2 separate regions of the Homo sapiens genome follow, and region 1 is linked to region 2. Evidence: fine-mapped expression QTL. Tissue or cell type: whole blood. Region 2 holds a variant in brackets; the other region holds the start of a gene. All regions are shown on one strand. Distances are between the middles of the regions.

Evidence for each region. PIP is the estimated chance that this variant, and not a neighbour inherited with it, causes the effect.
Region 1: AHR starts here. The variant in region 2 is fine-mapped to the expression of AHR in whole blood (TOPMed, PIP above 0.99). The same link has a PIP of 0.9 or more in blood mononuclear cells.

What each region holds. Positions count from the first base shown.
Region 1 is chr7:17,297,478-17,299,977 of GRCh38, forward strand. It overlaps AHR (aryl hydrocarbon receptor), which reads left to right and starts at 1,175. Exons shown (of 11, transcript NM_001621.5): 1 at 1,175-1,852. The coding sequence starts at 1,788. It overlaps LOC101927609 (a long non-coding RNA gene), which reads right to left and starts at 1,843. Exons shown (of 12, transcript XR_007060234.1): 1 at 1,583-1,843. RefSeq lists silencers at 1,450-1,599, 1,650-1,759, 1,800-1,849.
Region 2 is chr7:17,040,376-17,043,143 of GRCh38, forward strand. It overlaps LOC124901595 (a long non-coding RNA gene), which reads right to left. Exons shown (of 4, transcript XR_007060239.1): 1 at 1-2,768. Among named protein-coding and RNA genes, the nearest start is that of AGR3, 160 kb to the left of the region's middle. The variant G/A (reference allele first, on the strand shown) is at 1,158.

The DNA.
Region 1 (2,500 bases), 260 kb after region 2:
CCAGCTATGGTAGAGAACTGCTCCTCCAACTTTATGTACATTTGAATCACCTGGGAGTTCCTGTGAACTTCGGGTTCTGATTTAATAAGGACACCCAAAGAGTCTGCATTTCCTGTAACTCTCAAAAGAAGCTGTGGAGTACTCTGAATAGCAAAGCACTGTAAGTGCTGTTTCTGTTAGTATCTAATCTATTAGTCCTAATCTCCCATTTATGCTTTGGCACTCATTCCCTCCTGCTTTCGGTATCTTAATATCTATCATTCCTTCACTCTTCCCTCAGGTTCCCTACATAGTTTATCTCTACCCCCTCTAAGCCGCTCAGTATCGCCCATTAAAGAACTAAACCAAAACTAGAAAACCCTCATTTAACCCTTCACTCCCCCTACATACAATCTGATGTGTCTCTCATCCACAGCTAAACTTGGAAGAAAAATTGCCTGCTTGAGGATGCCATTTTGTTATCTTCAGCTCAATCCTGTACCCACTTCAATGTTATTTGCAGGCCCATTACCCCAACACTGCATTCACGAAAGTCATCAGTGACTACACATTGAGAAAACAAGAATGACATTTTCAGTTCTCAACTAATTTGAATTTCTCAACAGTATTCAATATTGTTAATTACTCCCAATATTTTTCCACATGGTCCTCCATGACACAATACATAATAGTCCCCTTATTATCTATATTCCTGTCTATTGTAAAGACTTCCCCCGCACACCAAAAAAGGTCAAGGAAACTCCTAGCCTTCAAGTCTCAACTCAAATCTGGCCTTCTGAAGCCTTCCCAACTAGGAAAATATACAGTCCCATTGGTTGTCTACCAGTTGTCTACCAGTTAATTGTAATTCTTAGCCACAAGTTAGCTGACCCACCGTCTCTCAAACAGGTGAAGTTAAGCTCAATATTTGGCATATCTTGATATACTTTGTACAGTCTAGCTACAATAAGTTTGCCTATGCACGAAGATGGCTACCGGCGGGGGGGGGCGTCCTTACGTCCTACGTCATCACGTGCCGGGATGAGGGTGGGGCCCTCAAGGAAGACGGAATGGAATCCAGATGGGCGGGGGCAAGCAGGACGGGGCGGGGCTACGCGGGATCTGGGCGGGGCGGGGCCGGTGAGGGGTCGGGGGTGCTCCTGCTATTCAGCCGGTGCGCGCGGCGGCGGGAGGCAGTGGCTGGGGAGTCCCGTCGACGCTCTGTTCCGAGAGCGTGCCCCGGACCGCCAGCTCAGAACAGGGGCAGCCGTGTAGCCGAACGGAAGCTGGGAGCAGCCGGGACTGGTGGCCCGCGCCCGAGCTCCGCAGGCGGGAAGCACCCTGGATTTAGGAAGTCCCGGGAGCAGCGCGGCGGCACCTCCCTCACCCAAGGGGCCGCGGCGACGGTCACGGGGCGCGGCGCCACCGTGAGCGACCCAGGCCAGGATTCTAAATAGACGGCCCAGGCTCCTCCTCCGCCCGGGCCGCCTCACCTGCGGGCATTGCCGCGCCGCCTCCGCCGGTGTAGACGGCACCTGCGCCGCCTTGCTCGCGGGTCTCCGCCCCTCGCCCACCCTCACTGCGCCAGGCCCAGGCAGCTCACCTGTACTGGCGCGGGCTGCGGAAGCCTGCGTGAGCCGAGGCGTTGAGGCGCGGCGCCCACGCCACTGTCCCGAGAGGACGCAGGTGGAGCGGGCGCGGCTTCGCGGAACCCGGCGCCGGCCGCCGCAGTGGTCCCAGCCTACACCGGGTTCCGGGGACCCGGCCGCCAGTGCCCGGGGAGTAGCCGCCGCCGTCGGCTGGGCACCATGAACAGCAGCAGCGCCAACATCACCTACGCCAGTCGCAAGCGGCGGAAGCCGGTGCAGAAAACGTGAGTGTCCCGAGCGCGTCCTCATCGCGGGGGCTGGGCGCTCAGGCACGCGGGTGCGGGAGGCAGCCCCACCCCGCCCCCAAATCCCTGCGATCCTGGGATTAGGTCCATTCCCGGCACTGCCCGTGGAATCGAGGTTTGGAGGCCGGCTGGGAGACAGAGGACTTGGATTCTCCCGTTTTCAATGATTGCATTTTAAAAATTGTCCTCCCACCCATCCTCTTCCCCCGCACCAGTGCATACACACCCTCTCACATTTGCAACTTTGTTCTTTCTGATTTGGTCCTGATTTGTTGACAGCTCTGATCTGCCTTGGGCTAATGGATTAGTTAGTATAAACCTGTCTTGAAATCTCCTTCCACTTTTCATATCCGCATGGGTTAGGTTAGAGGACGGTCTTAATTCTCATTCTTCGTAGAGTTTGGTAAGGCGAGATGTTTTAAAGAGCTAAACACATGCTGACTTTTACGAAGGGGCTGAGTGCCTCTAAAGGTACTTTTTGGTCCCCACCAACTGGCTTTGTGTTGCGCTCATATTTACTTATTTGGCAGCAATTTTGTAGCGCTCATCGTGACCATATCGGTAAAGTGGATAGAAGTGGTAGCAGGTGGGAGTGGATGCAACGGACAGGATACGGTGGAGGATTTG
Region 2 (2,768 bases):
TTTGTCTGTGTGATATGATGATGTGCTATGTTTGGACTATGTTTCTGGTCCAGAAAATTTGAGAAAAGTTTAGCACAATGAAGCCAGGAAAGTTTTATCACGCAGGTGACATCAAAATGTGCCTCTTAATGTTTATATTACACACAGTAAGCATTTAGATCACACTTTAAAGTTCACGTTGAAATTGAGGCCAGAATATTTGAGATTAAAATTCATAAGACCTTCCTCTTCTAAGATGTATATTCTTATGTGTTCATCTTCAAAGGAGACCCTATAATTTTACTTCAAACAAATACAGTGATTTAACTTAAAAAGCTGGGATAACGAGTGGTTAATAGGTTTTAGGAATTGTTTAAATATTTTTTATTGTGAATCCGTGTGCTTTAGAAACGTTTGCTCCAAGAACTCTTTCCTTAAAGAGAAGAGGAAAGCATTTGGAAAGCATTTAGGTGGTCTGAAGGACTTCTGGTAATAGTTACTGATACAGGTTGAAGCCGTATTTCCAAGCAAACTATTATAACGATTTGGCAATTGACCAGAAGATAAGAAACCTCTGGTTCATTCTAATTCTTCTATTTCCTGGAATTTCAAGACTCATTCCTTCTAATTCCACTCCAGGAAGTAGAATGATATTTTTAAAACTATCAATAATCCAAATTACCATGAAGAATCCCATTTTTAAAAGCAATTCCTTTCTCTAAACTAAGGAATCTGTTTCTTCATTTTTTTTTTCACTAAAATAAATTTTGGTCATTCCTTCTGATTTCACTGTTAAAGAACTAGCTATGAAATTTGCACAATTTCATACAAAATAAATTTAACAGCAGTAACATAAAAAAGTTATTTTTCCTACCTACATAAACAATTGTAGTTATATTCTTACATGATGTTGATCATAAGAGATAAGAACTAAAAAAAACCAAAACTAACTGGAACAAAAGATTTGATTAGAAATGACAGTTGTTTGAGGGTTTATTTTTGTAGGACAAAAGCTAGCATTTAATTGTTTATTTTACAGTTAGGGAGTTTACATTATGGAGGTATTCATATCTCCATTTCTTTCGTTGTGCTGTGACACACTTCCTGAATATTTCAAACCACTTTGTTTTGCAAGACTACTTTGCATTCTGAAGAGGTTTCCTGCTTAATTTAGTTCC[G/A]TCAACTGATTGCCATGGAAACTCTTGATATCCTTTCCTCTTCCTGGAATGAGACACTGGCTCTGTTTCAAATAGATCTTTTGGCACAGAAATAGAGTATGTTTCATAGAGCAAAATGTGCTGTCAATAAAAGAGGGTCCTTCAGAGGGATCTACTGAATGGACAGGAGCCACAAATACACACATCACTACTGAACAGAAAGGTAGTTGAACAATTAAAACCAGGTAGCAGCATAGTTCAAATCAAAACAAAGTGATGCCTAACCGACTTTTTAATTTTATTCACAAGTAAGTTGAAATCAATGCTTTACTGCATGCCAACTGAGCAAAATCAAAACAGAACAACCAATGATATATTACCCTAAAATTTTATGAGACTGAATCAATCTGAATTTCTCAAGGGCATCTCAAAGCAGATTAAATTGGTGAATGTGAACAGTTGTGCTGGAAAAATAATTTCTATAATTAACTATAACACAAAGATCTACCATTTTTCTTGCCATGGATTTTATTTTAAAAGTACATTTCTCAAGCAATAGTGACTGTAATAAATACATTGGGTCATCCTATTAAGCCCTCCACTTTGAAATGAGGATCATATTCTGGGTTTATTCTACTTATATTTAACAATTTTTAAATATGGAATTTGGAAAGTTAGAGCCAGTTACAATCATGAAAAAGAGAAGAATGATTATGTTTACAGTGTATTTACTACTTTACTTTGTGTATGGATCGCTGAGAAAAAAACTTCAATTGCATGACTATATATGCATGTGTGTTTACAACTGTTGTGGATGACCGTGTGTGTGTTTATGTATTGCATACAGACAGGTAGTTGTCAAAAGTACAGATTAATAGAAAAAGAAGTAGGTGTATATTGGGAGAAAGAGGAAATTCCTTTCTGATGACTCTCTGTAAATTCAAATATATGATAGCATCTTTAAAGTTAGAGTATCATGTGTTAATCTGTTATTTTTCATAATATTCAGGTTTTGCATATCCTTTGGAAAAAATGAGTGGAAGACAGCTATCTCCACCCAAACTTGTAGAGAGCTGTTTTCCTAAGACATTAAAAGTGAGAAGAGGCAAAATTTTGCTTCCTTGTAAACCTTGAATTTAGCAGCAGACACATAATGGTTTCTTTTGATGGCTTGAAGTTTGTCTATATAAAAATCATTGGTTATGATTTTGTTTTTTCTGATTGAGGTGGTAGGCACACATTATTTACTTTTCCCACAGTCAATTTACATCAAGAAAATATGTTGCCCTACAAAGTTTATTTACAATGAAAATTCACGTGCATGGAGAGTACTTCCTAAAAGGAATGCATATTTAGCAAATCTGGAAAAAATAATAAAATAATTGTATAAATTCTAAATATTATAGGTAAGAGATTTTAAAACTCAGTTTATTATTTTTTGGGTCCACTTTGATTATCTAAATTAGAAAAGTATATGGTACCTTCAAATTAGCTACAGCCTTAGCTGATTTGTCAAAATGTATTATAGCAACTCTGTTTTAATATCTCACCATGACAAAGCAGTAAAGCTCTGGTTATCACAGTATATTGCTCACTTTCAGTGTGATTTACTCTTAGCAGTCTGTGCATAAA